4 separate regions of the Homo sapiens genome follow, and all the other regions are linked to region 4. Evidence: fine-mapped expression QTL. A gene starts in region 4. Each other region holds a variant in brackets. All regions are shown on one strand. Distances are from middle to middle. Region 1 overlaps MYO1F (myosin IF). Region 2 overlaps MYO1F (myosin IF). Region 3 overlaps MARCHF2 (membrane associated ring-CH-type finger 2). Region 4 holds the start of PRAM1 (PML-RARA regulated adaptor molecule 1).

Region 1 (8,101 bases), 31 kb after region 4:
TACCTGTGATGGAACAGATGGATCTAGGCTGGGGGATAGATACCTATGGACAGGTGTGTCTGTGCCAGGTGAGGGTATACCTGTGATGGAACAGATGGATCTAGGCTGGGGGATCTATGCCTGTGGGCAGGTGCATATGGGCCAGGTGAGGGTGTACCTGTGATGGAACAGATGGATCTAGGCTGGGGGATATCTGGCTGTGGGCAGGTGCATCTGGGCCAGGTGAGGGTGCCAGGCTGTAGTCAGGGTCTTGCTGTGCCCACCCACTAGTGCCTCACCTTGAAGCGGCGGTCGTACTTGGTGACCGAATCGGCGAAGTCCACCCGCTCCCTCTTGCCCAGGAACTGACGCAGCTCGGGCCGCTCCTCCAGCCCCAGGTAGTCCCCGACGAAGTTCCGATTGATGCTGTTGCGCCTCCGCTCCTTCTTGTTCAGCAGGATGTTGGAAGCTGCGGGGACAGAGGGTGGAGGGCAGAGCTCCTGATACAGCTCCTCCAGGTCCTTGTGCCCCCACCCCGCGCCGTTTACCCGAAGCCTCTCACCTTCCTCCCGCATCTCCTCGTACTTCCGGACAGCCACGTGGCGCCGCCAGGCCTTCTGGATGGTTCGGGCAAAGCCATCGAACTTTCGCTCTCGCACCTCCTCCAGGAGGAAAAGCTGGGCGGGGGTCGTGGGGGGCAAGGGTGAGTCCTGGTGTCTCCCCAGGGGCTGCAGTTCCGGGTTTTCCCTGCGCTCACCCTACTCACACGCTTTTGCTCACCCATCCCCACACATGTGCTAATTTTTTTAAGAGGCGGGGTCTTTCTAGTGACACTCGTTCATAAAGAAAAGAAGAAAAAGGGGCCGGGCGCAGTGGCTCACGCCTGTAATCCTAGCACTTCGGGAGGCCGAGGCGGGTGGATCACCTGAGGTCAGGAGTTTGAGACGAGCCTGACCGACATAGTGAAACCCCATCTCTACTAAAAATACAAAAAGAAATTAGCTGGGCATGGTGGTAGATGCCTGTGATCCCAGCTACTCGGGAGCCTGAGGCAGGAGAATCACTTGAACCCGGGAGGCGGAGGTTGCAGTGAGCTGAGATCGCGCCATTGCACTCCAGCCTGGACAACAAGAGTGAAACTCCATCTCAAAAAGACAAAAAACAAAAACAAAAAAAGCTGGTGGCTCATGCCTATAATCCCAGCGCCTTGGGAGGCTGAGGCGGGAAGATCGCCTGAGGTCGGGAGTTTGAGACCAGCCTGATCAACATGGAGAAACCCTGTCTTTACTAAAAACATAAAATTAGCCGGGCATGGTGGCACATGCCTGTAATACCAGCTACTCAGGAGGCTGAGGCAGGAGAATCACTTGAACCTGGGAGTTGGAGGTTGCGGTGAGCTGAGATTGTGCCATTGCACTCCAGCCTGGGCAACAAGAGCAAAACTTCATCTCAAAAAAAGAAAAAAAGAAAAAGACAGGGTCTCGCTCCGTCGCCCAGACTGGAGTGTGGTGGTGCAGTCATAGCTCACTGCAGCTTCAACCTCTTGGGTTCAAGTGATCCTCCCACCTCTGCCTCCTGAGTAGCTGGGACTACAGCTGTGAGCCACCATGCCCAGCTAATTTTGTGGTGATGTGGTCTTGCCATGTTGCCCAGGCTGGAAAAATTTTTATCTTCCTCCAAATGACTGGACCTCCCTGTGCGTCTCTCCCCATGTGGGGTACACACTTCTGCCTTACATGATAACAGTGAGTCACTAGCTTCAGATCACAGCTGTGCCACTTACTACCTGTGTGCTTTTGCAAGAAACGGTATGATGTCACGGTTTCTTACACTGTTACTCGACACTATCCACGAGGTACACTGCCGTGTCAGAGATGGTAGAAATAGGAACCAGTGTGCATCTTGGAAAACCAATAAAATACAGTAAATATGAAAATGTGGCCGGGTGCAGTGGCTCAAGCCTGTAATCCCAGCATTTTGGGAGGCCGAGGTGGGCGGATCACCTGAGGTCAAGAGTTTGAGACCAGCCTGGCCAACATGGTGAAACCCCGTCTCTACTAATAATACAAAAGTTAGCCGGGTGTGGTGGCGCATGCCTGTCATCCCAGCTACTCGGGAGGCTGAGGCAGGAGAATCGCTTGAACTCGGGAGGTGGTGGTTGCAGTGAGCGGAGATTGCGCCACTGCACTCCAGCCTGGGCGACAGAGTGAGACTCAGTCCCCCGACCCCTGAAAAAAGAAAAGAATGAAACTCCATCTCAAAAAAAAAAAGAAAGAAAAAGAAAATCTGATGTGTAGAACTGTGATGTGACTAGCAACCGTGTGGTTGGGCAGTGTACAACCTGCACAGCCATCCGTAGCAGGCCCAGAAAGGAAGCTTTTGCAGAAAGCAGAGAAAAGGGTTTTGAGTTGTAAAAGTCTAGACCCAGAGGGGACTTAGAGAATGAATTACATTACAGCAAGTCAAAGTACAAAGTCTAAGAGGAATGTCTACTCATTTGTAATAACAGCAGGTGAACAAGGTGAGGAACCTACTGGATATTAAAATACTGTAAATCTATAGTAATAAAAACAATAGCATGCCTGTCAGAGAATAGAATGATTAACTGGAATAGGGCAGATGCTTGAGAAACATCCTACTTCAAAGAGAAACTGTGATCAAAGGGACAATATTGTCAATTAGTGAAGATGGGAAATAATGCAAATATAGGCTGGGTGCGGTGGCTCATGCCTCTAATCCCAGCAGTTTGGGAGGCTAAGGTGGGAGCATTGTTGAGCCCAGGAGTTCAAGACCAGCCTGGGCAACATAGAAAGACCCCGTCTCTACAAAAACTAAGCAAAAATTAGCTGAGGGTGATGGCACGCATGTGTAGTCCCAGCTATTCCGGAGGGTGAGGTGGGAGGATTCTTTGAGCCCAGGAGGTTGAGGCTGCAGTGAGCTGTGATTGTGCGACTGCACTCCAGCCTGGGAGATAGAGTGAGATCCTGTCTCAGAAAAAAAAAAAAATACACACACACACACACACACACACACACACACACACACACACACACAATTGGGCTTTATTTAGAAAAATTAGCACTTCACCCAGAGTGCTTTCCCAAGTCCATAGGTAGCACATTGCTGCTAAGAGCCTTGCTCCCTGCTCTGCTGACCAAAATAGTTTTAATTTTTTCAGAGACAGGGTCTTGCTCTGTTTCCCAGGCTGGAGTGCAGTGGTGCGATCTCGGCTCCCGGGCTCAAGGGATCCTCCCACCTCAGCCACTCAAGGCTAATTATGGTATTATTATATATATATTTTTTTGGTAGAGAGGTAGAGTTGGGGTTTTGCCATGTTGTCCAGACTCGTCTGGAACTCCTGGGCTCAAGGAATCTACCAGCCTTGACCTCCCAAAGTGCTGGGATTACAGGCGTGAGCCAGCGTGCCCAGCCTCAGATTCTTCTTCTTCTTCTTCTTCTTCTTTTTTTTTTTTTTTGAGACGGAGTCTTGCTCTGTCGCTCAGGCTGGAGTGCAGTGGTGCGATCTTGGCTCACTGCAAGCTCCGTCTCCTGGGTTCACGCCATTCTCCTGCCTCAGCCTCCCGAGTAGCTGGGACTACAGGCGCCCGCCACCATGCCTGGCTAACTTTTTTGTATTTTTTTAGTAGAGACATAGTTTTGCTGTGTTAGCCAGGGTGGTCTCAATCTCCTGACCTCATGATCCGCCTGCCTCGGCCTCCCAAAGTGCTGGGAATTACAGGCGTGAGCCAGCACGCTTAGCCTCAGATTCTTCTTTAAAACCTTTAGAGAGTATGGCCATGCCAACACCTTGATTTTGGACTTCTGACCTGCGGAACTGTGAGAGAATAAATTGCTGTTGTGTTAAGCCATGGAGTTTGTGGAACTTTGTTTCAGCTGTCCCAGCAGACTATTATAACATACCTGGGATGCTGGGCCACAAAGGCCAACAGGCAGATAAAATGTTTGAGGATGGCCCAAACCATGTTCATAAGAAAATCAAAATAGGGGCCGGGCGCGGTGGCTCATGCATATAATCCCAGCACTTTGGGAGGCTGAGGTGGGCAGATCACTTGAGGTCAGGAGACCAGCCTGGCCAACAGGGTGAAAACCCATCTCTATTAAAAACACAAAAATTAGCCTGGTGTGGTGGCGGGTGCCTGTAATTCCAGCTACTTGGGAGGCTGAGGCAGGAGAATTGCTTGAACCAGGAAGGTGGAGGTTGCAGTGAGCCAAGATTGCGCCATTCCACTTTAGCCTGGGTGACAGAGCGAGACTCTGTCTAAAAAAAAAAAAAAAAATTCATCCCAACATGAATGCATTTTTGGTTGAGAAAGGCTCCAACTCCATTAAGCTAATTTAATTTCTTGATTACTTTTTAAATATAGCACAGTTAAACCGTTGGCTATTTTTCTTTTCTTTTCTTTTCTTTTTTT[CAG/C]AGTCTCACTTTGTCCCCCAGGCTGGAGTGCAGTGGCGCAATCTCAGCTCACTGCAACCTCTGCCTCCCAGGTTCGAGCAATTCTCCTGCCTCAGCCTCCCAGGTAGCTGGGATTACAGGCACGTGTCACCATGCCCGGCTTATTTTGTATTTTTAGTAGAGATGGGGTTTCCCCATGTTGGCCAGGCTGGTCTCGAACTCCTAACCTCAAGTGATCCACCACCCTGGCCTCCCAAAGTGCTGGGATTACAGTTGTGAGCCACCGTGCCTGGCCTTTTCTTCTATTTTCATTTTACTAATTTTTTTTTTTTTGAGATGGAGTCTCACTCTGTTGCCCAGGCTAGAGTGCAGTGGTGCGATCTCGGCTCACTGCAACCTCTGCCTCCTGGGTTTGAGTGATTCTCCTGCCTCAGCCTCCTGAGTAGCTGGGATTACAGGTGCGCACCACCACACTTGGCTAATTTTTTGTATTTGTAGAAGAGACGGGGTTTCACCATGTTGGTCGGGCTGGTCTTGAACTCCTGACCTCGTGATCCACTCGCCTCGGCTTCCCAAAGTGTTGAGATTATAGGCGTGAGCCACTGCACCCAGCTTATTTTACTAAAATTAAATTACTGTTGCCCAGGCTTGAGTGCAGTGGCACGATCTTGGCTCACTTCAGCCTCTGCCTCCTGGGTTAAAGTGATTTTCCTGCCTCAGCCTCCTGAGTAGCTGGTATTACAGGTGTGCACCACCACGCCCAGCTAATTTTTGTACTTTTAATAGAGAAGGGGTTTCACCATGTTGGCCAGGCTGGTCTCAAACTCCTGACCTCAAGTGATCCATCCACCTCAGCCTCCCAAATTGCTGAGATTACAGGTGTGAGCCAGTGCGCCTGGCCAGCAAGATTATTTTCATCAGGATTATTTTCTTTCTTTTATAAATATTCAGTCTGTCTTTGTTGTTGATGTTCTTATAGGATTTTACCACTAAGCATCTGCCATCGTGAATTTCATTATTTCTACCCCGTCCGTCTTCTCCAAATCAAAATCTATAGACTGAAATTTTTGTCTAAATTAAATTTTACTTTATATAGTCTTTGCTGGTGATAGTTATTTTTCTTTTTTCTTTTTGTCTTTTGTAGAGACAGGGTCTCACTATGTTTCCCAGGCTGGTCTCGAACTCCTGGCTTCAAACCATCCTCCTGCCTCAGCCTCCCAAAGCACTGATATTACAGGCATGCGCTACCACACCTGACTTGGTGCTAGTTTTATTTTGCCTTTTTTCTGTTCTATGTCAAAATTTTTGGTCTATTTCTTCCAGAGTGTCTCTCTCAATCTCTCTCTCTCAATCTCTCAATCACATTCTTTCTTTCTTTTTTTTTTTTGAGACGGAGTCTCGCTCTGTCGCCCAGGCTGGAGTGCAGTGGCGTGATCTCGGCTCACTGCAACCTCTGCCTCCTGGGTTCAAGCCATTCTTCTGCCTCAGCCTCCTGAGTAGCTGGGACCACAGGTGCCCGCCACCATGCCCGGCTAATTTTTTTTGTATTTTTAGTAGAGACGCGGTTTCACTGTGTTAGCCAGGATGGTCTCGATCTCCTGGCCTTGTGATCCGCCCTCCTCAGCCTCCCAAAGTGCTGGGATTACAGGCATGAGCCACCGCGCCCGGCAGTCGCAGTCTTTCTTAATCTCTCGCTCAGTCTCTCTCAGTCTCTTACTTTCAGTCTATTAATCTCTCACTTGCTTTCTCAATTTCTCTCTCAACCTCTATCTCAGTTTCTCTGTCAATCCCTCTCTCTCAATCTGTTTCTCAATTTCTCAATCTATCAGTCTTTCTCTCAATCTCTGTCTCCCTCTGTCTCTCTCTCTCTCTCTCAGTCCCTCTCTATACCTTTCTCTCTCTTCCCCTCTCCTTCTCTGCCTGTCCCTCAAACACACTCACCGACTCTGGGTTCTTGACAAAGACCTTGGTGCTCCCCATCTGGTACTGGTCGGGCTCCATGTTGACCGCCCGAAGCAGGTGCTGGACGCCCTGGCGTTCGTCCCCACGCCACCGCGGCCACGTCTCGGGGGTCAGAATGGCATACCTGAGGGCGGAGGGCTGGGGTGTGGGAGTGCTCATAGCAGACAGGCCTGGCTGGGCGTTCTGATGAAGGGGATGGCGAGGGCGGGGGTGGAGGGCTCCTCACCTCTGCAGGAATTTGGCGAACTGGCGGCGGTAGGCGAAGCCGGCTCTGCGCACCCTGATGTTCTCCTTCAGGCCCAGGTATTCCACCTGGTGCTTGACTCTGGTGGGGAGGGTAGGCTGAGTCCCCTCGGGGTGGGGAGTCACCAGTCCTGGGGGTGGGTGGGAGGTGCTGGAGGTGGGGGACCTGGGGGGATCTGGATTCATGCTGAGGGAAGTTTGGGGGGTGAGTTCTGTGGTCTGGGGGGGCTTCGGGGGTCAGCCTGGGGACTGGGGGGAGGGATCTTGTCCTGATGGTCCCTTCTGGGGTCAGTTCTGCAGGTGGGGGATTGTGGGAGGGGCTGTGCTAGTCCCTGGGTCATCCTACAGGAGGTCAGGGAGGTGTCTCGGTCAGTTCTAGGGGTAACTGCAGGGCCTGGGGGGAATGAATCTTGGATTGGTTGGGGGGGATCACCTGTTCTCCTCCCAGTCTCGGGGCCTCTTGGTCTCGTTGGGTTTGATGCAGCGGATGTAGTGGGGTGTGCACCTCATCAGTGTGGCCACCAGGTCGTTGGCTTGTTTCTGAGGCAGAAGTGAAGACGGGTGGGTGGGGGGCACAGAGATGGGACCCTCTGGCCCCTCTTTTTTCCACCCTGGATACAGTCCCAATAGACAGAGACTGGGGGTGGGTGAGGGCTGGTAACAGATAAGCCACAGGGGCCAGATGTCCCTGGTCTGTGTGCACCTCCACTAGTGCACACCACACTAGTGGGACTGATGTGGGGTGTCTGCCTGACCCTGGAACCCAAGACAAGGAGCTCTCACGTCTACCGCACTCACCACTTACCTTGGCACATAGTAAGTGCTCAGTAAATGTTTGTTGACTGAGTAACAGAGCCCTTATGAGAGCATTTCTTTTTGTCCTTTGGGGAGATAGGTACCTTGGGTGTTTGTTTTTTTTGTTTTGTTCTGTTTTATTTTGTTTTGAGATGGAATTTTGCTCTGTCACCCAGGCTGGAGCGCAATGGTGCCATCTTGGCTCACTGCAACCTCCACCACCTGGATCCAAGAGATCCTTCTGCCTCAGCCTCCCAAGTAGCTGGGATTACAGGCATGTGCCACCACACCCGGATAATTTTTAGTAGAGACAGGGTTTTGCCATGTTGGTCAGGCTGGTCATGAACTCCTGACCTCAGGTGATCCATCCACCTCTGGCTCCCAAGGTGTTGGGATTACAGGCATGAGCCACTATACCTGGCTGGGTGATTTTTTTTGAGACAGGGTCTCCCTCTGTCACTCAGGCTGGGGTATAGTGGCGCCGTGATAGTTCACTGTAGCCTCAGCCTCCTGTGCTCAAGCGATCAACTGCCTTAGCCTCCGGAGTAGCTAGGATTACAGGTCTGAGCCACTGTGCCTGGCTAAGACATGTACTTTGGAGGTAGGGAAACTGTGTGTATGCCTGAGAGGTTTGCCTTGGGTTTTGCATTTTGTTTTATTTTTATTTTTATTTTTATTTGGAGACAAAATCTCGCTCTGTTGCCAGGC
Region 2 (8,101 bases), 42 kb after region 4:
AACCCAGGAGGTGGAGGTTGCAGTGAGCCGAGATCGTGCCACTGCACTCCAGCCTGGGCGGCAGGGTGAGAGACACTGTCTCCAAAAAAAAAAAAAAAAAATCGGATTGTGGTGATGGTTGCGCAATTCTGTGAATTTGCTAAACGTCATGGATTGAGACACTGCTTAAAGTGGGTGGATTTAATGGTAAGTGCTGCTGAAACCCTTACGTGCACATGGATCCCTGGGAGGCATGGGTGCATCCTGGCTTAAAGATCAGGTTAGGTTCCGATAGTTCTAAACCTGATTGTTCAGATTCTGATAGTTCAGAATCAGATGCAGATTCTGATTCTGGAGGTCTGGGGTGGAGTTTGAGGTTCTGCCTTTTTTTTCCCCTCAGAGATAAGGTCTGTTGCCAAGGCTGGAGTGCAGTGGTGCAATCACGGCTCACTGTAGCCTCCACCTCCTAGGCTCAAGTGATCCTTCTATCTCAGCCTCCCGAGTAGCTGGGACTATAGGCATGTGCCACCACACCCAGCTAATTAATTAATTATTATTATTTTTGCTGGCAGAGTAGACAAGCATTTAAAAAAAAGAATTTTTTTTTAAGAGACAGGGGTCTTGCTATGTTGCCCAGGCTGGTCTTAAACTTGGGACCTCCAGTGATCCTTCTGGCTAGGGAGATTCTGCACTGGAAACAAGGCCCAAGGATGCTCAGGTTGCTGGTCTAAGAACCACATGTCAAACACTTTAAGGATCCCCGTCTTATTACTTTACATCTAATGCTATGTTCTTTGTGTGTGTGTGTGTGTGTGTGTTTTTTTTTTTTTTTTTTTTTGAGACAGAATCTCCCTCTGTCGCCCAGGCTGGAGTGCAGTGGCACAATCTTGGCTCATTGCAACCTCTGCCTCCTGGGTTCAAGAGATTCTTATGCTTCCACCTCCTGAGTAGCTGGAATTACAGGTGCGCGCCACCACGCCTAGGTAATTTTTATAATTTTAGTAGAGACAAGGTTTTGCCATGTTGCCCAGGCTGGTCTCAAACTCTTGGCCTCAAGAGATTTGTCCACTTCGGCCTCCCAAAGTGCTGGGATTACAGGCGTGAGCCACTGCGCCCGGCCTCTGGAGTTACTTTTTACATCAGAACTAGTCCATAGAAACACCATCCTGGCCGCACAGCCACTCCCCTCGAGTTTGTGGCGAGATGGCAGTTCTGGGTAAGATGGAGTGGGGCCCGGTCCTCCCTCCATCCCCTTGGGGGGTTGTAGCCGGAGGTCCCCATGCCTGGGACCACTCACTGCTCACTGGTCTGCATCAGCTCTATGAGGTCGGAGAAGAGAACGTCTCGGTTCCTCTCGCAGAAGCCGCTGACGTCGTAGGAGACCTGGAGGGGACAGTGCTGAGGACAGTGAGGGACTGAGAAACCTGGCTGGGAGGGTGGGCGTGGGGTGCTTACAGCCCAGGTGGTCAAGGCTTTCCTGGGGCCTGCTGTGGGGTGAGAGGATCAGGCAGTGTCTACAGCGCTGGCTGGGGGGTATCTACAGTTCAGAATAGGGGATGGGGGGCGGGCTTCCTGGAGAGCTGATGTTCAAGTTGAGGTTAGAGGATCGTGGCTGTATCCCAGGTCAGAGGTAAGGGGAGGTGGGGGTTACAACCTAGATGAGCCAGGAGAGAGCTGCAGCTTGCATCAGAGGCCGGGGGGCGGTGAAAGTTATAGCTCAGATTGGTGGGTGGGGGGCTGCAGCCTGGCGGGGGGGTCCCTGGGAGTCAGAGGTCAGATTGGATATCTGTGACCTGGTCAATCAGGGGCCAGTGCAGGGGGCCTGTGTCAGGAGGGTAACAGCCCTGTCTCAGGGATCTCTGGGGGCATTTCAGCCAGGGTTGGGGGCTGGAGCTGCTACCAAAGGTTAGGGCCCTCTGTAGTTCTGAGCAGGGCTTTTGCAACCCTGGCTGAGGGAACATGGGAGCTCCAGCCGTTTTTGTTTTTGTTTGTTTGCTTTTTTTTTTTTTTGAGAAAGAGTCTTGCTCTATCACCCAGGCTGGAGTGCAATGACACGATCTCAGCTCACTGCAACCTCCGCCTTCCGGGATCAAGTGATTCTCCTGTCTCAGCCTCCCGATGAGCTGGGATTACAGGCGTGTGCCACCACACCTGGCTGATTTTTTTTTTTATTTTTAATAGAGACGGGGTTTCAATATGTTAGCCAGGATGGTCTCGATCTCCTGACCTTGTGATCCGCCCGCCTCAGCCTCCCAAAGTGCTGGGATTATAGGCGTGAGCCACTGCACCCGGCCCTGTTTGCTTTTGTTTTGTGAGATGGAGTCTTGCTCTGTTGCTCAGGCTGGAGTGCTGTGGCACAATCTTGGCTTACTGCAACCTCCACCTCTTGGATTCAAGTGATTCTCCTGCCTCAGCCTCCTGAGTAGCTGGGATTACAGGTGCCCACGACCACGCCCGGCTGATTTTTGTATTTTTAGTAGAGACTGGGTTTCACCATGTTGGCCAGGCTGGTCTTGAACTCCTGACCTCAGGTGATCCACCCGCCTCAGCCTCCCAAAGTGCTGGGATTACAGGCGTGAGCCACCACTCCCAGCCTCTCCAGCCCATTTTAGGGGCACTCCTAGGAACTTCTGCTCTCATGTTGTGAGATCCTTGGATCACTGCCTGAGAGTGTAGTCCTGTCTTTTGGGGAGTGGGGCTGCGGGCATGGTTAGAGTCCAGTGGATTTCTGTAGCCTTCGGTAGGGGTCTGTAGGAGGCTTCAGCACATTTTGAAGGCTGGTGGCTCACAGGAGGGGCCTGGGGGCTTTGGGGATTTCCTCTCCAAATTGGGATCAGAAGGTGGGGGGCTGTGTCCTAGTCAGGGGGTTATGACTCACATTGGGGCTTATCTGAACATAGGCAGTCTGGTACCCAAGCTGGTGTTAATCGGGGGGAATTCTGTTCCCTCTGTTAGGGGAGTTGATGTGTAAGGGAAGCTGTGGCCTGGATCAGAGGTCAGGGTTTCTGCAGCCCTGGCCCAGGGAACACGGTGGTGGTGGTGGTGCTGGTGGTGGTGGTGGTGGTGCTGGTGGTGGTGGTGGTGGTGGTGGTGGTGGTGCTGGTGGTGGTGGTGGTGCTGGTGGTGCTGGTGGTGCTGGTGGTGGTGGTGGTGGTGGTGCTGGTGGTGCTGGTGGTGCTGGTGGTGGTGGTGCTGGTGGTGCTGGTGGTGGTGGTGGTGGTGGTGGTGGTGGTGGTGGTGGTGGTGGTGCTGGTGGTGCTGGTGGTGCTGGTGGTGGTGGTGGTGGTGCTGGTGGTGGTGGTGGTGGTGGTGGTGGTGGTGGTGGTGGTGCTGGTGGTGCTGGTGGTGGTGGTGGTGGTGGTGCTGGTGCTGGTGCTGGTGGTGGTGCTGGTGGTGGCGGTGGCGGTGGCGGTGGCGGTGGCGGTGGCGGTGCTGGTGGTGGTGGTGGTGGTGGTGGTGGTGTCCAGACAAGTTTGGGGCTTAGAGAGTTCCTGGGGGGTCAGCCGGAAGGGTCTGTAGTTCTGGTTAGTAGGGGGTGGATTGAGGCGGGGGACAGTGGAATTCTACAGCCCTGGATAAGGGTCCTAGCAGGCTCTTTCCAGCCTGGGTGCTGGAGGGTGGGGGCTACAGCCTGGAGCCCTGGGGGTCTGCGAGGAGGCACAGGGTAGGGTAGGGGCAGGGGGCGCACCTTGCCAGCGTAGTGGTGGATGACGAAGCCGGCGCTCCAGCTGTTGAAATGCTCGTGGGTCCCCACAGCCGCCTGCAGCTTCTGCAGCAGTGTCTGGTCTGCTCCCCCGCCCGTGGCGTGCATGGTGGCGCACACGTCGTCCAAGACGCTCATGATGCCTGGGGGGCTCTGCGGGGCGAGCGGGAGCCAGCAGCGGCTCAGTTTGGTCTGCCTTGCCTCCCCACAGCTCGTCAGTGCAGAGATTAGGGGAGGGAGGGGGTGGAGGAGTGGAGGGAGCTAGAGCTTTGGGGGTGGGGAGGGCACCAGGGGCTTCAAATACAAGCACAAAAGGCGTTGCAGGGGTCAGGGATGGAAGGGATAGGGGGGCAAGGGTGTGTGGGGCTACTGTGGAAGCTCGCTGAGGTGCAGAAGTGGGTGGGGACCCCTCAAGAGATTCAGGCCCCAGACTAGAATCCCTTGGTAGGGGGACCTGCCTTATGTATTTATTTATTTATTTAGAGACGGAGTCTTGCTCTCTTGCCCAGGCTGGAGAGCAGTGGCGTGATCTCAGCTCACTGCAGCCTCCATCTCCCAGGTTCGAGTGATTCTCCTGCTTCAGCCTCCTGAGTAGCTGGGATTACAGGCATGCCGCCACCATGCCCGGCTAATTTTTGTATTTTTTAGTAGAGATGGGGTTTCACCATGTTGGCCAGGCTGGTTTCGAACTCTTGGCCTCAGGTGATCCACCTGCCTTGGCCTCCCAAAGTGCTGGGATTACAGGCATGAGCCACCATGTCCCGCCTAAATACGTCTTAAATTTAATTTTTTTTGAGACAGGGTCTTGTTCTGTTCCTCAGGCTGGAGTGTGGTGGTGCAATCATAGCTCACTGCACCCTTGACTTCCTGGGCTCAAGTGATCCTCCCACCTCAGCCT[T/C]CCGGGTAGCTGGGATTACAGGCGCCTGCCACCACGCCTGGCTAATTTTTTGTATTTTTAGTAGAGACAGGTTTTCACCATATTGGTCAGGCTGGTCTCGAACTCCTGACCTCAGGTGATCCGCCCACCTTGGCCTCCCAAAGTGCTGGGATTACAGGCGTGAGCCACCGGCATGGAATCTGCAAATTTGACTCTAACTGTGAGCTGGGGTTCCCGGGGAAATGTTTATTGAATGATTAAGTGAAAGGTGGACAAGTAGGCGGAATGAATGGATGAGGGGCGGAAGGGACATTTTGGTTGTTATCTGTCGCTGGAAGTCCTGAGTGTAGGGTAGAGAAGGGCCTGAGGATGCCATAACACCCTTGGCCCTCCCCCTCATCTTCCAGACTCAGCTCAGGGGACCAGTGAGACGCCCCCGCCAAAGTTGACCCAGCCCTCACCAGCTTGTTTTCGATGAGGTCACAGACGACCTTGTTGTTGAAGTACTGGATTGGAGTCCAGCGGATGCCTTCCTGCACATACTCCTCCTGGGGTGGAAAAGGGGGTGGATGTGGGGGCCAGTGAAAAAGTTGTGGCCACCCTTCCCCCCATGTCCTCTCCCCTTCTCCATCTCATCACTTAGGACTGTCTCTGGTAACAAAGCCCGTCACTCCTATGTGGGCAAGGCTGGAAGTGCCAGGGAATTACATCTGGTTTCAGCAGTCCTTGACCAATAATCAACAGGAGTGGGTGGATAAATACCCCAGCTCCCTCGCTTCTCCGCTCTATGAAGCCTCCTCGAGTCCCAGTGCAGTTGCATTCCGGTTGTCCACAGCATAACGTGCTCATTAACACACTATTTTGACTCTTTTTTTTTTTTTTTTTTTTTTTTTGAGATGGAGTTTCACTCCTGTTGCCTAGGCTGGAGTGCAATGGCACGATCTTGGCTCATCGCAACCTCCGCCTCCCGAGTTCAAGCGATTCTCCTGCCTCAGCCTCCCGAGAAGCTGGGATTACAGGTATGTGCCACCACGCCGGACTAATTTTGTATTTTTAGTAGAGATGGGGTTTCTCCATGTTGGTCAGGCTGGTCTCGAACTCCCAACCTCAGGACATCTGCCCACCTCGGCCTCCCAAAGTGCTGGGATTACAGGCATGAGCCACCGCACACAGCTTGCTTTTTTTTTTTGAGACCGGGTTTTGCTCTGTTACCCAGGCTGGAACTCAGCGATGCGATCCTAGCTCACTGCAACCTTGACCTCCAGGGTTCAAGTGATCCTCTCATCTCAGCCTTCCGAGTAGCTGGGACCGTAGGAGCACACCACCATGCCTGGCTAATTTTTATGTTTTTTGTAGAGATGAGGTCTCACTATGTTGTCCAGGCTGGCTTTGAACCCCCAGGCTCAAGCGATCCTCTTAACTTAGCCTCCTAGATAGCTGGGACTATAGGTGTGAGTGATTGTGTCTGGCTCGGTCTGTCTCTCTCTTTTTTTCTTTTCTTTTTTGAGACAGGGTCTCATTCTGCTGTTGCCCAGGCTGGAGTGCAATGGCACAATCTCGACTCACTACAAGCTCTGCCTCCTGGGTTCAAGCAATTCTCCTGCCTCAGACTCCTGAGTAGCTGGGATTACAGGTGCCCAGCACCACACCTGGCTAAGTTTTATATTTTTAGTAGAGATGGGGTTTCACCATGTTGGCCAGGCTGGTCTCAAACTCCTGACCTCAGGTGATCCACCCACCTCAGCCTCCCAAAGTGCTGGGATTACAGGCGTGAGCCACTGCACCCAGCCTCTCTCTCTCTCTTTGTTAAAAAAATCCCTGTCTCAGGACTGGGCATATTAACTCATGCCTGTAGTCCCAGCACTTTGGCAGGCCAAGGCAGGAGGATTGCTTGAGGCCAGGAGTTCAAGACCAATCTGGGCAACAAAGTGAAACACCAACTCTACAAAAAAGTTTTAAAATATTAGCCAGGCATGATGGTGTGTGCCTGCGGTCCCAGCTACTTGAGAGGCTGAAGTGGGAGGATTGCTTGAGCCCAGGAGGTGTAGACTGCAGTGACCTGTGATCACACCACTGCACTCCAGCCTGGACAACAGAGCGAGTTCCTGTCTCAAAAAAAAAAAAAAAAAAAAAAAAGCGGGGAATGGTGGCTCCCATCTGTAATCCCAGCACTTTGGGAGGCTGAGGTGGGTGGATCACGAGGTCAGGAGTTTGAGACCAGTCTGGCCAATATGATGAAACCCTGTCTCTACTAAAAATACAAAAATTAGCTGGGCATGGTGGTGGGTGCCTGTAGTCCCAGCTGCTCGGGAGGCTGAGGCAGGAGAATCACTTGAACTCTGGAGGCGGAGGTTGCAGTGAGCCGAGATCATGCCACTGCACTCCAGCCTGGGTGACAGAACGAGACTTTGTCTCAAAAAAAAAAAAAAAAATCCCTGACTTACTTCCTCAGTCTCCTCTTGGAGCTTCCTGGGATTGCCTCCCAGAAAAACCATTTGTCTCTGAATCCTTGCCTCAGGCTCTGCTTCTGGGGGAGGGGCAAAATGAAGACAGCAGGGACTATTGCCTTATTGTTCATGGCTGTGTCTCCAAGCACCCTAAACAGTACCTGGCACACAACAGGTGCTCAATAAATAATTGCTGAATGAATGAACTAAGAGGCACGGTCCTTCCCAAAGCTTTAGAGGCAGAAGGAAGTATCACTATGGAGCCTGGGTAGGTTGGCACAGAGAGGTGGGAACGCGGTGGGGAGGGCTGGGGTGTCCCCTAGTTGCTAAGGGATCCTCATGGTCCTTCCACCCCACCCCCACCCCAGGATCCCCCATCCCTGACTGCTTGGCCGCCCACCTGCTCGGCCTTCAGGGTAAGTTCGATAAAGATTTGCTGCAGCTTCTCATTGACGAAGTTGATGCAAAACTGCTCGAAGCCATTTTTCTGCAGAAGGAGGAAAAGGGTCCTTCCCTCAATGTCCTGGTGCTGGAAGTTCTTGTGGCCACCCTGGGCTGCCCCAGGGAGGACAGGATGTGGGCTGGAGGCAGGGGGCCGTACCTGGAAGATCTCGAAGCCGTAAATGTCCAGCACACCGATGCTGTACTCTTCCTGGGGTTTCTGCATAGCACGGTTGATGGCCTGCGGTGTGGGTGGGGACAGGAAGTCAGTGGGCATCGGTCAGATCTGAAGCCCCTGCCCACCACTCCTTAGACACACGCCTAGCCAACTTCATGGGTGATGTCCCCTCATGCCAGTTTCCCTCCAGCCCTCTTTAGCTCTGCCCTTCCTGGCTCTGTGTACAGTCTCCCCACCCCATAATCAGTCACTCAGAGGAGAAACCCAAGTGTCAGTGTATCAGGGTCCCTGACTCCAGAGCTGACTCTGCCCCTGAACCTCTCTGCACCTCTATTTTCTTTTTTTTTTTTTCTTTTTTTTTTTTGAGACGGAGTCTCACTCTGTCGCCCAGGCTGGAGTGCAGTGGCATGATCTCGGCTCACTGCAAGCTCCGCCTCCAGGGTTCACACCATTCTCCTGCCTCAGCCTCCCAAGTA
Region 3 (8,101 bases), 65 kb before region 4:
CGTGCCACTGCACTCCAGCCTGGGTGCCTGAGTGACAGAATAAGACTCTGTCTCAAAAAAAAAAAAAAGAAAAAAAGCCTGAATGAGAGACAGACAGAATGATGGGGGTGTGAGGTATTGTTCTAGGCCTCTGGTAGGCAGCAGAACCCTTGCTTAGAGGCAAAAGCTCCCCCAAATCTCACCCCTCAGACATAACCACTATTGTCCAGCTGTAGGGGAGTCCCTGCCTCACAAAGTATTTTTCAATGAACCTACCAGCATTTCTTTTTTTTTTTTTTTTTTTTTGAGACGGGGTCTTGCTCTGTCACCCAGGCTAGAGTGCAGTGGCACAATGTTGGCTCACTGCCATCTCCGCCTCCTGGGCTCAAGCGATTCTCCTGTCTCAGCCTCCTGAGTAGCTGGGATTACAGGCATGTGCCACCACACCCAGCCAATTTTTATATTTTTAGTAGAGACGGGGTTTCGCCATGTTGGCCAGGCTGGTCTCGAACTCTTGACCTCAGGTATCCACCCACCTTGGCCTTCCAAAGTGCTGAGATTACAGGCATGAACCATCGCGCCCTGCCCCTACCAGCATATTTTAAAATATGTAAATAGGATGAAATCATAGCTACTGTTTTAGCATCTGCTTGTTTTCATTTTGCTGGTGTTCTTTAAAAAAAAAAACCCACACACACAACGAGGCAGCCACCCAGCAGACATTCATTGTATGGGTGGACCATATTTATTTAACAAATCACTTTTGACAGGCACTGGGATTTTTTCCAATGTGTGTGTGGTTTTATTTCTACTTCCTTGTTTTTTCCATTATGAACAGTGCTTTGGGACTGTCCATGCAAATGTTTCTTGGGAACTTGCTTGGTCAAAGGATGTGAACCACTGACCTTTATTTATTTATTTATTTATTTAGCCGGAGTCTCACTGTGTCGCCCAGGCCAGAGTGCAATGGTGCAATCTCAGTTTACTGCAACTTCCGCCTCCCGGGTTCAAGCAGTCCTCATGCCTCAGCCTCCCGAGTAGCTGGGATTAAGGCATCTGCCACCATGTCTGGCTAATTTTTGTATTTTTAGTAGAGACGAGTTTTCACCATGTTGGCCAGGCTGGTCTCGAACTCCTGGACTCAGGTGATCTGCCCACCTTGGCCTTCCAAAATGCTGGGATTATAGGCGTGAGCCATTGCGCTAAGCAACATTTATTTTTTAATTTTTTTTTTTTTTTTTGAGACAGAGTCTCGCTCTGTCACCAGGCTAGAGTGTAGTGACGCGATCTTGGCTCACTGCAACTTCTGCCTCTCAGGTTCAAGCAATTATCCTGCCTCAGCCTCCCGAGTAGCTGGGACTACAGGTGTGCGCCACCATGCCCAGATAATTTTTTTTATTTTTAGTAGAGACAGGGTTTCACCATGTTGGCCAGGATGGTCTCGATTTCTTGACCTCGTGATCCGCCCGTGTCTGCCTCCCAAAGTGCTGGGATTACAGGTGTGAGCCACCACACTAGGCCATTTTTAAATTTTTTTATAGACTAATTTTTAGAGCAATTTTAGGTTCACAGCAAAATTTAGCAGAAAGTACAGAGAGTTCCTGTATATCACCCTGCTCCATACGCACACAACTTGCACAGCCTCCCCCACTATTAACATCGTTTACCCAAGCAGTGCATTTGTTACAATCAGTGAACCTTCATTATCCCTTTAAAGCCATAGTTCACATTAGGATTCACTTCTTTTGTTTGTTTGTTTTGAGATGGTATCTCGCCCTGTCTCTCAGACTGGAGTGCAGTGGTGTGATCTCCGCTCACTGCAACCTCTACCTCCTGGGCTCAAGCGATCCTCCCACCTCGGCCCTCCCAAGTAACTAGGACCATAGGTGCCCACTACCACACCTGGCTAGTTTTTGTATTTTTTGTAGAGACAGTGTTTTGCTATGTTGTTGTATCTGGTCTTAAACTCCTGGGCTCAAACCTTGGCTTCCCAGAGTGCTGGGATTATAGGTGTGAGCCACTGCACCTGGCCTGTGTGTGTGTGTGTGTGTGTGTGTGTGTGTGTGTGTGGCGGGGAGGGGATAGGATTGTTCTTTGTCACCCAGGCTGCAGTGCAGTGTGGCGTGATCATGGCTCACTGCAGCCTCAACCTCCCAGGCTCAATTGATCCTCCCACCTCAGCTTCCTGAGTAGCTAGTATTACAGATGTGTGCACCACGCCTGGCTAATTTTTGTATTTTTTTGGTGGAGACCGGGTTTTGCCATGTTGCCCAGGCTAGGAGTTGACTCTTGCTGTTGGACATTTATAAGTTTTGATGAATGTATAATGACATGTATTCACTATTTTTTTTTTTGGGGGGGACAGAGTCTCACTGTGTGCCAGGCTGGAGTGCAGTGGTGCGATCTTGGCTCACTGCAACTTCCGCCTCCTGGGTTCAAGCGATTCTCCTGCCTCAGCCTCCCGAGTAGCTGGGACTACAGGCCTGTGCCACCACGCCCAGCTAATTTTTGTATTCTTATTGGAGATGGGGTTTCACCATGTTGGCCAGGATGGTCTCGATCTCTTGACCTCGTGATCTGCCCACCTTGGCCTCCCAAAGGGCTAGGATTACAGGTGTGAGCCACTGCACCCAGCCATATTCACCATTATAATATCAGACAGAGTAGTTTCGTTGCCCTAAAAGTCCTCTGTGCTCTCTCTATTCATGCCACCCTCCTTTTCCCCAAGCCCTATCCACTGCTGATCTTTTTACTGTCTCCATGGTTTAGCCTTTTCCAGAATGTCCTATAGTTGGAGTCATTCAGTATGCAGCATCTTCAGGTTGGTTTATTTCATTTGGTGATAAGCATTTAAGGTTATTTTCGTGGCTTAAGGGCTTTCTTTTTTTTTTTTTTTTTTTTTTTGAGGCAGAGTCTCGCTCTTTCACCCAGGCTGGAGTGAAGTGGAGCGATCTCGGCTTACCGCAGCCTCCGCACCCCTCCCCCACAGGTTCAAGCGATTCTCTTGCCTCAGCCTCCTGAGTAGCTGGAATTACAGGCACCCGCCACCATGCCTGGCTAATTTTGTATTTTTAATAGAGATGGGATTTCTCCATGTTGGTCAGGCTGGTCTCAAACTCTGGACCTCAGGTGATCCACCCACCTTGGCCTCCCAAAGTGCTGGGATTACAGGTTTGAGCCACTGCGCCCAGCATTTTTTTTTTTTTTTTTGAGACAGGATCTCACTCTGTTGGATTGCAGTGGCGTGAGCACAGCTTGCTGCAGCGTCAACCTCCAGGGCTCAAATGATTCTCCTACCCCAGCCTCCTAAGTAGCTGGGACCACAGGCCTGGGCCACCACACCTGGCTAATTTTTAAATATTTGGTAGAGACAAGGTCTCGCTATGTTGCCTAGGCTGGCCTTCGACTCCTGAGCTCAAGTGGTCCCCACGCCTCGACCTCCTAAAGTGCTGGGATTACAGGCATGAGCCACCTTACCCAGCTTCGTTTCTTTTTAGCACTGAATAAGATCTCATTATCTGGAAGCACCACTGTTTATTTATTCATTCACCTATTTTTTTTTTTTTTTTTTTTGAGACGGAGTCTCGCTCTGTCGCCCAGGCTGGAGTGCCGTGGTGCGATCTCGGCTCACTGCAAGCTCTGCCTCCCAGGTTCACACCATTCTCCTGCCTCAGCGTCCCGAGTAGCTGGGATTACAGGCGCCCACCACCACGGCCGGCTAATTTTTTGTATTTTCAGTAGAGATGGCGTTTCACCGTGTTAGCCAGGATGGTCTCGATCTCCTGACCTCATGATCCACCTGCCTTGGCCTCCCAAAGTGCTGGGATTACAGGCGTGAGCCACCACGCCTGGCCTCATTCACCTATTGAGTGACTTTTTTTTTTTTAAACTTTTTTTTTTTGTTTGCACGTTCTGGTTGCACGTTTTGGCAATTATGTGACTGATTTACATTAAAAAAATTTTTTTGAGACAGGGTCTCACTCTGTCGCCCAGGCTGGAGTGCAGTGGCGTGATTTCGGCTCACTGCGGCCCATATCTCCCAGGCTCAGGCGATTCTCCTGCCTCAGCCTCCCAAGTAGCTGGGACTACAGGTCCGTGCCACCACGCCAGGCTAATTTTTGTATTTTTAGTAGAGACGGGGTTTTTAGTAGAGACAGGGTTTCTCCATGTTGCCCAGGCTGATCTTGAACTCCTGAGCTCAAGTGATCTTCCCCCGTGCCCGGGCTCCCAAACTACTGGGATTACAGGTGTGAGCCACCTCGCCCGGCCTGATTGATTGACATTTAATGCCTTCCAAGAGGCTGTTTCACTCCTTTCCCACTGAGAGGCAGGAAAGGAGCTCCCGTTTGCTTCCTGCTGGTGTGTGTGGGGTGTATCTTGTCTTTGCAGGACTCTGGAAGCTGGTGGGTGTCACCAGGAGTGTGAATGGGTCTGTGTGTGTGCACTTTGTGGGAGGAATGTTCATAAGCCAGCTCTGCTTCTGGAAGCATGAGCCCCAGCCATGGTTTGGGCCAACGCAGGTGCCACCACGGCGACTTGTTTTCCTCCCTTGCGGGTGGAGGCCTCCGCTCACTGCAGGGCTGCCCCACAGGTCTCCTTCCGCTACCACTGCCAGCTGTACTCCGAGTGGAGAAAGACCAACCAGAAAGTTCGCCTGAAGATCC[G/C]GGAGGCGGACAGCCCCGAGGGCCCCCAGCATTCTCCACTGGCAGCTGGACTCCTGAAGAAGGTGGCAGAGGAGACACCAGTATGAATGCTGGGCTCTCCGGACCCTGCAGCAGAGAGGCCAGAGGTAGCTGGTGATACCCTGTCCTGTGGAAGGACTTCCACTTCAACACTTCCACTTCAACAGTTCCCGCACGGCCTGAACGCTTCTTAGGCCAAGAGACACCATGCAGAGCCTAGTCTGTGATCCTGTGTGAAGATATTTTCAGGGTTTTTTTTTTTTTTTTTTTGCATATGGAGGACAGGTGGACATGGTCCTGAGCTCTGGACGGAGCAGGCACCCTGATCTCATTCTGAGGTCCACATGGCACCTTCTGGGCCAGCAGCTGTGGCCGGTGTATCAAGGGCGCCCTTAAAGCTGGAACATTCCAGCAAGCTTCTTGCGCTTCTCTGCACCCGGCAGGCCCACTTTCCTGGCACCCTCGACTTTATATAAAAGTTGCACTGCGTTTCAAAAACCCACCCCTGAATGAATAAAAGGAGCCCTGGCTGGACAAAATGGACTTGTCAGTTATGTTTCTCAAAGGAGGCCTCCCAGGGAGGGACCACATGGAGGTAAAAAAATAACACTGGCGGCCAGCCAGGTGTAGTGACTCACTCCTGTAATCCCAGCACTTTGGGAGGCTGAGGTGGGTGGATCACAAGGTCAAGAGATCGAGACCATCCTGGCTAACATGGTGAAACCCTGTCTCTACTAAAAATATAAAAATTACTTGGGCATGGTGGTGCGCGCCGGTAATCCCAGGTGCTACACAGGAAGCTGATGCAGGAGAATCGCTTGCACCTGGGAGGTGGAGGTTGCAGTGAGCTGAGATGGCGTCACTGCACTCCAACCTGGCGACAGAGAGAGACTCCATCTCCAAAACAAAACAAAACAAAACAACAACAAAAAACACTGGTTGGCCAGGCACAGTGGCTCATGCATGGAATTCCAGCACTTTGGGAGGCTGAGGTGGGCGGATCACAAGGTCAGGAGTTCGAGACCAGCCTAGCCAATATGGTTAAATCTCGTCTCTACTAAAAATACAACATGAGCCAGGCGTGGTGGCAGATACCTGTAGTCCCAGCTACTCGGGAGGCTGAGGCAGGAGAATCGCTTGAACCCGGGAGGCAGGGGTTGCCGTGAGCCAAGATCGCACCATTGCACTCTAGCCTGGGTGAGACAGCGAGACTCTGTCTCAAAAAAAATAAAATAAAATAAAAAACAATAAAAACCACTGGCTTGTTTTGAGGGATCTGTTCTGAAGCCCATGGGAAGAAGCAAAGGCTCAGTCTTCAAGTAAAAATCAGGTAGCAGGGTTATAAAAATGATTTTTAAAATATACATACGGGCTGGGCATGGTGGCTCATGCCTGTAATCACACTTTGAGAGGCCGAGATGGGTGGATCACCTGAGGTCAGGAGTTCGAGACCAGCCTGGCCAACATGGTGAAACCCCATCTCTACTAAAAATACAAAAATTAGCTGGGCGTGGAGACGCACACCTGTAATCCCAGCTACTCGGGAGGCTGAGGCAGGAGAATGGCTTGAACCTGGGAGACAGAGGTTGCAGTTAGCTGAGATCAGTTGCACCACTGCATTTCAGACTGGGTGACATCGTGAAACTCTGTCTCAAAAAATAAAAAATAGAAAAATAAAATAGACATAAGAACAATTTCCTCTTACTTTGCATCTGCCAGTCCACAGACCATGCTGGCCTCTGTTTTTCTTTTTTTGAGATGGGGTCTTGCTCTGTCACCCAGATTGGAGTGCAGAGGCACAATCACACAGCTCACTCCAGCCTCGACCTCCTGGGCTCAGGCAATCCTGTCTCAGCCTCCCTGGCAGCTGGGACAACAGGCATGCACCACTGCGCCTAGCCACTGTTAGTTTTTAGTTAAGTGTAGAGAGTCCAGCATGGGCCAGGCCTGGTGGCTGATGCCTGTAATCCCAGCATTTTGGGAGGCTTCGGCAGGAGGATCAGTTGAGCCTAGGAGTTTGAGACCAGCCTTGGCAACATAGTGAGACCCTGTCTTTACTAAATAAATAAATATATAAATATATATATATTAGCTGGGCATGGTGGCATGCACCTGTGGTCACAGTTACTCAGGAGGCTGAGGTGGGAGGATCCCTTGAATCCAGGAGTTCCAGGCTGCAGTGAGCTATAATTATACTTCTGTTGTCTATTCTAGGCAACAGGGCAAGACCCTGTCTCTAAAGCAAACAAACAATTTTTTAAAAATGGTGACAATATCCACGCTGACTTAGGGTGACTATAGATTAGGCATAGTTCCGAGTCTCTCCCTCCTTTGACTGTCACTTGTTAGGGAAGAAGTGGTTATTACCTACATTTTACAGGTGAGAAGACTGAGGCCCAGGGCAGGGAAGCCTTAATCTAAGGTCTCAGAGCTGTAGGAAGTGGAGCCGGGGTGACACCAGGACTCCTTTTGGAGGAAGACTCAGGAAAGATGCAGAATACGTGTTTTTTTTTTTTTTTTTTTTTTTTTTTGAAACAGAGTCTTACTCCATCACCCAGGTTGGAGAGCAGTGGCGTGATCTTGGTGATCTTGGCTTACTGCAACCTCTGCCTCCCGGGTTCAAGTGATTCTCTCTTGCCTCAGCCTCCCAAGTAGCTGGGACCACAGGCAGCTAAGTTTTGTATTTTTAGTAGAGATGAAGTCTTGTCATGTTGACCAGGCTGGTCTCGAACTCCTGACCTCAGGTGATTCACCTACCTCGGCCCCCTAAAGTGCTGGGATTACAGGCGTGAGCCACCGAGCCTGGCCCAGAATGCAGTTAATCTAATAACAACACCTACTTCTTCAGCGCTTTCTGCCTGCCGATTCTTTTATATTTAAAGGCTCTTGGCATCTGTCTGCTTTTAAAGCTCAGGGCAACCCTGAAAGGTGAGTTCTGGTGCCTTTCTTTCTTTCTCTCTCTCTCTCTCTCTCTTTCTTTTCTTTCTTTCTTTCGACGGAGTCTCGCCCTGTTGCCCAGGCTAGAGCGCAGTGGCACTATCTCTGCTCACTGCAACCTCCACCTCCCGAGTTCAAGCAATTATCCTGTCTCAGCCTCCTGAGTAGCTGGGACTACAGGCGCCAACCATCATGCCTGGCTAATTTCTGTATTTTTAGTACAGATGGGGTTTCGCCATATTGGCCAGGCTGGTATTGAACTCCTGACCTCAAATGATCCACCTGACTCGGCCTCTCAAACTGCTAGGATTACAGGCGTGAGCCACCGTGCCCAGCCTGGTGCATTGCATTTCTTATTATCCATATTTTCAGTTAAGCAAACTGAGCCTCAGAGTGGAGGAGCTGATTGCTCAAGGTCTGTTTTCCATATGAATCCCTGCCTGGTATGTAGCTCACTCACAAAGGAAGAAAAACTTTCTGCCTGGACTGGAAGGGCAAGGAGA
Region 4 (8,101 bases):
CTCGGGCTGCGGGGGCTTCTTGGAGAGCGCTTTGAATTCGGCCGGCCGCGGCCTCTTGGGAAGCACGCTGACTTCGGGCTCTGAGGAGGTCCTGGTGAGGTCCCCAAGCTCAGGCTGCGGAGGCTTCTTGGGAAAGTCACTCAGCGGAGGCTGGGAGGCCTTTTTGGGAAAGGCGCTGGAGTCGCGCTTCGGCTCGCTGGACTGAGGCTTCCAGAGGGGAGTCTGAGCGGCCTCGCTGAACTCAGGCTGCGGCACGGACTTCTTAGGGAGGCCACCGACCTGAGGCTGCGGAGGCTTTTTGGGGTACACGTTGAACTCAGGCTGCGCAGGCTTCTTGGGAAAGGTACTCAACTCAGGCTGCGGGGACCTCGGGGTAGCCTCACCGGCCTCGGGTTGCCAGAGCTTCCTGGGGAATGCGCCGGATTTGGGTTCGGAGGGGGGTCTGGCGGGGTGACTGAGTTCGTCGGGCTGCAGGGGTTTCCGGGCCGGCGCACCAGGCTCCGGCAGCGAGGCCTTCAAAGGGGCCTCACCGACCTCAGGCTGCAGGGGCTTCCTTGGAAACGGAGTGGCCCCCAGCTGTGGGAACTTCTTGGAGAGGTCACTCAACTCCAGTTTGGACGGCTTCTTGGGGAGGTCAGTGACCTCAGGCGGCGGGGGCTTCTTGGGGAGGTCAGTGACCTCAGGCGGCGGGGGCTTCTTGGGGAGGTCAGTGACCTCAGGCGGCGGGGGCTTCTTGGGGAGGTCAGTGACCTCAGGCGGCGGGGGCTTCAAGGACACTGCACCAAACTCAGGCAGCGGGGCCTTCTTGGGGTGCTCGCTTAGCTCAGGCTGGGAGAACTTCTTCAGTTTACCAAACTCAGGCTTCGGAGGTTTTTTGGGCAGGTCGCTGGGCTCCGGCTGAGAGGCCTGGAACTTTGCTTTGATGCTCCGGAAGTCCTGATGGCTCTCCTAGGAGACGCAGAGCCAATGAGGCAGGGGCTCAAACACACAGAAGGGGCATGGAAGGATGGGCCTGGGGACCCTCAGGCACAGCCCACAACCACCACCCCTGCGCCCAGGCCCGGTCAGCCCTCAGCTCTTTCCCAGGAGCCCCCATGGATCCTAGGATCCTGGGACCGACACCCCTCCCTACTTCTCCATTTAGTGCTGATTCCACACCCAACCTCCTCTAGCAGCACTGGAGATCCCGACATCCCTCCTGCAGCCTCCAGTCCCACTGCCCTCCCCCCATGGGTGGTACCCCACCCCCCCAGCATCCTTGACCCCCTCATTCTTTCACCCCTCCCACTGCATGTCTCCAGTCTCGTTCCATTGCCCAGGCTGGAGAGCAGTGGTGCAATCATAGCTCACTGCAGCTTGCAACTCCTGGGCTCCAATGATTCCCCCGACCTCGGCCTCCCCAGTAGCTGGGATTACAGGCTTGAGCCGCCGCGCCCAGGCCCCCAGTCCCTTCTGTGCTAATTTCAAAACACATCCGGAATCCAACCACTTCTCACTGCCTTCACCACTGTCACCCCAGGAGGTAGTGGGAGGCAGTGTCTGCCCTCCCCCAACCAATTGCCTGGATTACTCTAACAAGCCCTTCCCTGGGCCTCTGCCTACCCCCTTCCCTGGTCAGTTCCCCCCATGGCAGCTGGAGGGAGAAGCCTGTTGAACCCTGAGTCTGTTTGTGTCCCTCTGCTCAAAACTCGGCAATGCTTCCTCATGTCCCCACAGTTCAAGCTAAATGCCTCATAAAAGCCTGGGCGAACCAGCCTCCCTACCCAGCCACCTTCTCCTCCCTGCACCCTGAACACTTCCCTCCGACCTCGGGGCCTCTGCCCTGTCCCTGACCCAGGACATGTCTCTGCACCACCTGGGTCTCTCCTTTTCCTCCTCCCAGCCTCTGTTCTCATATTTTCTTATTAGAGAGGCCATCCAAGGCCACCCTATTTGTTTATTTTTATTTTTTGAGATGGAGTCTTGCTCTGTCACCCAGACTGGAGTGCAATGGCGCGATCTCGGCTCACTGCAATCTCCACTTCCCAGGTTCAAATGATTCTCGTGCCTCAGCCGCCCAAGTAGCTGGGATTACAGGCACTCGCCACCACACCTGGCTAATTTTTGTATTTTAACTAGAGACAGGGTTTCACCACGTTGGCCAGGCTGGTCTCAAACTCACGACCTCAGGTGATCCACCCTCCACCCGCCTCAGCCTCCCAAAGTGCTGGGATTACAGGTGTGAGCCACCGTGCCCAACCTAGACCACCCTATTTTTCTTTCTTTCTTTTTTTTTTTTTTTTTTGAGACGGAGTCTCACTCTGTCACCCAGGTTGGAATGCAGTGGTGGAATCTCGCCATACTGCAACCTCCGCCTCCTGGGTTCAAGCGATTCTCAGCCTCCTGAGTAGCTGGGATCACAGGTGTCTGCCACGACGCCTGGCTAATTTTTTTTGTATTTTTAATGGAAACAGGGTTTTACCATGTTGGCCAGGCTGGTCTCGAACTCCTGACCTCAAGTGATCCACCCACCTCGGCCTCCCAAAGTGCATGAGCCATCACGCCTGGCCTAGACCACCCTATTTTAAATGGATCACCCCATCCCACTACTGCCCTGCATTCAGCATGCATGATTTTCTCCATCGTACCCACCCCTACGTATTATACTATTTTACATTGTTTTTAATGTGTCTTGATTTTTTTTTTTTTTTTTTTTTGTCTCTCTACACCACAACTTCCCTCAGTTCCTCAGCCTCTGCAAGGCAGAGACTTGGCTCATTCATTGCTGTCTTCCCAGGGCCTGGAACATGGTAGGTGCTCAGTAAATATTTGCTGAAATAAACAATATTCAGGCAGCACAAAGACAGCCATGTACTCAGCCTGACCATCAGGAAAACACAGAGATGCCTGGAGACGGCCATGCGGTCCCTCTCACACCGTCTCTGACATGCGGGCTGATGGTCAGGAATGCTCACAGTTGACAGTGCCTGAGAGGATTGGTGCAGACACCGTGGGCACAGGCGCTGTCTCCTGCATACCCAGCTGTCCCAGCTGCCCTCCTAGCTGGCCCTGCAACCACTCCTCACAGAGGTAGGCAGATTCACAAGAAGGCCAGGCCTCCTTAGTCCTACAAACGCCCCTTTCACCTGTGGTCAAGGAGATTGGGGGAGGGAAAGGGCAGAAACGTGTGGCCTTTGCTTCCTGCGTGTGCCTCACTTTCCCCATCCAGAGGACCAGAGACCAGGATTGCTCCTTGGAAAGGCAGCAATTCCCACCTGGGGCCTGAAGTGCCCCTGTCAAAGCCCCGAGTGGTTTGAAGGAAGTGCTCCCGGGCGACCACAGGGCTAGATAAGTCAGGGTTAGCAGGTCACAACTTGGGTGACTGGACGGGGGAGGGTCATGACCCACTTTGTCACCCCGCAGGAAAGCACTGCTCTCACCCCAGCAGCCCGTTCCCACATGGCTGCTCATGTTGACCTGGGGAGACGGGAGTTGTCCCCCCGGGGAGTCCCATCTGTCCCCCTCGCAGTCCCAACCTGAGCGTGAACCCCCAGGAGCCCGCGCTGTCCTGGGGTGTGCCTGGTGGCCGCCTACCTCGGGTCCTTTTTGCCGACCCTTCCCGTTTCCCAGATGTCTTTCGCAGCCACCCCCCGCCCCCCCGCCCGCCCCTCCACAGGTGGATCCTATCCTTCTGGGAACATCTGTGTCCCTTGCTTCCCAGCCAGTGAGGCACAGGCCTCTTCCAGCACTCACCATGGCTGCAGGCAGGTGATGGGCCATGGGATGAGTGGGACCCGAGCTGGGGCCGCTGCCTTCAGGAAGTGACTGTGGCTTCTGCTCCACGGTCAGCACACAGGGTGGGGGCTGCTAGAGGTGGGGCGGGGGAGGGCAGAGGAGGAAGGGAAGGAGGTGGGGAGGCTCCAGTCCGTCTCCAGATCCTGCCAGCCACTTCTTTTTTTTTGAGACTGAGTCTTGCTCTGTCGCCCAGGCTGGAGTGCCATGGTGCCATCTCGGCTCACTGCAACCTCTGCCTCCCGGGTTCAGGCAATTCTTTTGCATCAACCTCCTGAGTAGCTGGGATTACAGGCGCGCACCACCGCTCCTGGCTACTTTTCGTATCTTTAGTAGAGAAGGGGTTTCACCATGTTGGGCAGGCTGGTCTCAAACTCCTGACCTCAAGGGATCGGTCCGCCTCGGCCTACCAAAGTGCTGGGATTACAGGTGTGAGCCACTGCCCCGGCCCCTGCTGGGCACTTCTATTTCGCTTGAATTCCTGTCCTGCCTGCTACTGTCCCAAGCTTGGGGCACTGGTTGCCCGCATGTTCCTAACATGGTCACTAGTTTCTTTCTTTTTTTTTTTTTTTTTTTTTTTTTTGAGACGGGGTATCACTTTGTTGCCCAGGCTGGAGTGTAGTGGCGCAATCTCGACTCACTGCAACCTCCGCCTCCCAGGTTCAAGCGATTGTCCTGCCTCAGTCTCCTGAGTAGCTGGAATTACATGCATGTGCCACCACTGCCGGCTAATTTTTTGTATTTTTAGTAGAGACGGGGTTTCACCATGTTGGTCAGGCTGGTCTCAAACTCCCAACCTCAGATGATCTGCCCGCCTCGGCCTCCCAAAGTGCTGGGACTACAGGCGTGAGCAACCACGCCTGGCCAACTAGTTTCTTACTCTCTATAGTCCCCATCATTCCTACTACTTTGGTGTCCCCATCTCTGGACTCCAGGGAGGACTCCATGCCAGGCCCTGGTGACCTCCTGGGCTAGAGAGCCACAGGATGGGGAGATCTCAGCAGATCAGGGGTACGGACAGCTCTGGGGTTTAGGAGGCTCCTGGGGAGGCCCAGAGGCCCAGGACGTGGGGGCCCATGTGACCGGGTGAGGCCTCTGCTGTCTGCCCTGGTTGGCTCATCCGCCTTCCTCATTTCAACACTTCCATGAAATCCAATTCCCGGCTCTGAGCAGGACTCACTTGTTCTGGGGCAGATATCACAGGCCATGGATGTCCCAGGCTGCCGCCCTGGGCAGAAAGCTTAGCTGGTACAGCAGATTTGGGGGTCGGTGGGTGAGTGGTGTCAAAGGCCTTGCACCTGGGCCACGCACGGTGGCTCACGCCTGTAATCCTAACACTTTGGGAGGCTGAGGCAGGAGGATCACTTGAGCCCAGGAGTTCAAGACCAGCTTGGGCAATGTAGCAAGACTCCATCTCTACAAAAAATATAAAATTAGCCAGGTGTGATGGTGCACGCCTGTGGTCCCAGCTGCTTGGGAGGCTGGGGTGGGAGAATCACTTGAACCCTGAAGGCGGAGGTTGCAGAGTCAAGATCACGCCACTGTACTCCATGCTGGGTGACAGAGAGAGACTCCATCTCAAAAAAAAAAAAAAAAAAAGGCTTTGCAGTTCTGGAGGAGTGAGGGGGTCTGAGGACCCGAGGACACACCAGATTCCCAGAGGTTAGAGGTAGTAGAGAGAAGAGGAACCAGGAGACAGAGACAGGGGCCAAGAGGGGGTGAAGGCAGTCACTTGTGGTGCCGAGGACTGGCCAGATAAGGACAAGCCCTGACCACAGAGCTCAGCCCACAGGAGATCAGTAATCTCCGTCACGGTAGACAAAGGGAGAAAACACCTGCTAAGAGAGTAGAGAGCCCTGGTTTTCAGTTTGAGCACATGTTGGAATTGCCTGAACAGTTAAAAAAAAAAAAAAAAGAACCGGCGGTTGGGCAGTGTGGCTCACGCCTGTAATCCCAGCACTTTGGGAGGCTGAGTCGGGTGGATCACCTGAGGTTGATCACCTGAGGTTGGGAGTTCAAGACCAGCCTGGGCAACATGGAGAAACCCCATCTCTACTAAAAATACAAAAATTAGCTCGGCGTGGTGGCGCATGCCTGTAATCTTGGCTACTTGGGAGGCTGAGGCAGGAGAATTGCTTGAACCCAGGAGGCGGAGGTTGCAGTGAGACGAGATGGCTCCACTGCACTCCAGTCTGGGTGACAGAGCAAAACTCCATCTAAAAAAAAACAAAACAAAAAACAGAACCTACAAGAAACTCTGACTTAATCAGTCTGGGGTGTGGCCCGAGCAAGTATTTTTAAAACATTTTAAAATTTTTTTTTTGAGACAAAGTCTTGCTCTGTCTCCCAGGCTGCCTCCCGGCTTCAAGTAGCTGGGATTACAGGTGCCTGCCAACATGCCCGGCTAATTTTCTGGATTTTTAGCAGAGCTGGGGTGTCACCATTGGCCAGGCTGGTCTCAAACTCCTGACCTCAAGCAATCTACCCACGTGGGCCTCCCAAAGTGCTGGGATTACAGGCCTTAGTCACTGCGCCTGGCCTGCCTGTTTTCACGCCTCCTTTAAGAGCACAGACATCAGGATTCTGCCATCTCTGTTGTGCCTTTGCATCCTGTCCTGGGGCACAGTTCCCAGATGTGGGTTGCCCTCCCAAAAAGGAGTCTCGGGAGGACAGTATGGGCTCTCTGTGGGTCTCCAGAACCTTGGCAAGTGAAGGAAAGAATGAAAGAAAGAACAAGTGGCCAGGCGCGGTGGCTGACGCCTGTAATCCCAGAAGTTTGGGAGGCCAGGCGGGCGTATCACCTGAGGTCAGGAGTTCGAGAGCAGCCTGGCCAACATGATGAAACCCTGTCTCTACTAAAAATACTGTTTGTGCACACCTGTAATCCCAGGTACCTGGGAGGCTGAGGCGGGAGAATCGCTTGAACCCGGGAGGCGGAGGTTGCAGTGAGCTGAGATTGCGCCATTGCACTCCAACCTGGGTGACAAGGCGAGACACCGTCTCAAAAAAAAAAAAATTAAATTAAATAATAAAAATAAGTAAATAAATAAATCAAGCAATGCTTGGCCACAGTAAGGAGCTCAATCAAGGTAATTAAAGGATTGGATGACAGCTGATGGATTCCCAGGTGCCTGGGCTGGTCACTACCCGTGCACTCTCGCAGCTAGGAGGGTCCAGCCAGGGCGCGCGCACCAAGGCCCCACGGGGGCGCCGTGGGGGTGAAGCGCAGGTCCCGGAGCTGTAGTCATGGTGCGCCTCCCCGCCAACTACCCTTTGTGTATTTGGCGCCTCCGTAGGGGCTCCCGGCAGGGTTCCGCGCGGCGCGGCTGCAGACAGGGACAGATAGGGTTACCGGAATCCCGGAGAAGGGAGCCCGGACCAGGGGAGTGAGAGTTCGTTAGGGCGCGCCTTGGGGAATCTGCGGGGTCGGAAACGCGAACAACGGTGTGCAGGGGGAGGAGCCCGGGGAGCACGTGGGCGGCGGATCCCAGGGCCGCAGGGCGCCCTCCACCTCCCCGCTCCTGGCCCGCAATGAGGGTAACCGGACCGGCACCTGCAAGTGACAGCTGGGGCTGGACAAATGCCGGGCACGGGCCTCTGGCCGGCCTCAGAGCTGTTCAGCGCGAGCCCGCGGCTTCCAGCCAACCTGCCCGCTATCCCCACTGCTCTCCCGGCTTTCATTCCCCCGAGTCTGAGATTCCTGGGCGCCCCCTGCTGGGCGGAGCCGGGGCCCAAGAGGGCTGGGCTCCTGTGCATGGGGGTTGGGGGCCGGCTTGAGGGTAGGAGGTCGTTTCTGCAGTGGACAGGGTGAACGGTGGAGGACAGGTGGTGAGCCAGCTCCCCAGGCCTCGCGGCAGTCAGTTCACTCCAGAGGGTAGTGTGGTGGCCGTGGGCCCGCTGTACACACAGGAAGGGCTGTCCCATCTCCGTGGGTGATGGGGTAGGGGAGAGGTCCCTGGACGGACGTGTTGGCTCTAGGTTTCTCTGGAAAGATACTGACAGACTGGGAAGAGGCGTGGCCTAGATCTGGGGGTGGCCGAATAAAGAAACTGATGGGGACAAAGACTCCTGGGGGCCCCCGGGACCCTGGAGAGGGGTTAGGGGCCTGGGGGACAGAGAACACAGCGCTGTCCCTGGAGATGGGGGAGAGGCTTGGACTACAGCCAGATCTAGGGACCTGCAGAATGCGGGAACAGGGGCGTGTCCTCTGGACCTGCTGGCAGGGTTTTCTCTTCTCGTGGTAACCGTGCGCAGCTCCCAAGATGGTGCAGAATCAGTGCCGCTGACTGGGAACTGGGGCTGGCTAGAGGCCTCCTAGCCTCACCTTCTC

Evidence for each region. PIP is the estimated chance that this variant, and not a neighbour inherited with it, causes the effect.
Region 1: its variant is fine-mapped to the expression of PRAM1 in whole blood (INTERVAL, PIP above 0.99).
Region 2: its variant is fine-mapped to the expression of PRAM1 in whole blood (TOPMed, PIP above 0.99).
Region 3: its variant is fine-mapped to the expression of PRAM1 in whole blood (TOPMed, PIP above 0.99).

The regions. Positions count from the first base shown.
Region 1 is chr19:8,529,918-8,538,018 of GRCh38, forward strand. It overlaps MYO1F (myosin IF), which reads right to left. Exons shown (of 28, transcript NM_012335.4): 17 at 7,032-7,138; 18 at 6,582-6,680; 19 at 6,335-6,479; 20 at 542-656; 21 at 279-448. All of the region lies in intron 1 of LOC124904633 (a long non-coding RNA gene), which reads left to right. Among named protein-coding and RNA genes, the nearest start is that of ZNF414, 20 kb to the left of the region's middle. The variant CAG/C (reference allele first, on the strand shown) is at 4,413.
Region 2 is chr19:8,540,630-8,548,730 of GRCh38, forward strand. It overlaps MYO1F (myosin IF), which reads right to left. Exons shown (of 28, transcript NM_012335.4): 11 at 7,608-7,688; 12 at 7,407-7,493; 13 at 5,021-5,107; 14 at 3,668-3,835; 15 at 1,277-1,362. LOC124904633 (a long non-coding RNA gene) reads left to right here. Exons shown (of 3, transcript XR_007067131.1): 3 at 5,456-6,696. Among named protein-coding and RNA genes, the nearest start is that of ZNF414, 31 kb to the left of the region's middle. The variant T/C (reference allele first, on the strand shown) is at 4,581.
Region 3 is chr19:8,433,818-8,441,918 of GRCh38, forward strand. It overlaps MARCHF2 (membrane associated ring-CH-type finger 2), which reads left to right. Exons shown (of 5, transcript NM_001005415.2): 5 at 4,571-5,200. The coding sequence ends at 4,729. Among named protein-coding and RNA genes, the nearest start is that of HNRNPM, 7.1 kb to the right of the region's middle. RefSeq lists a silencer at 8,048-8,101. The variant G/C (reference allele first, on the strand shown) is at 4,644.
Region 4 is chr19:8,498,833-8,506,933 of GRCh38, forward strand. PRAM1 (PML-RARA regulated adaptor molecule 1) reads right to left here and starts at 3,808. Exons shown (of 10, transcript NM_032152.5): 1 at 3,733-3,808; 2 at 1-948. The coding sequence starts at 3,759. RefSeq lists enhancers at 1-363, 6,973-7,473, 7,513-8,099 and silencers at 6,890-6,939, 6,960-7,059, 7,170-7,429.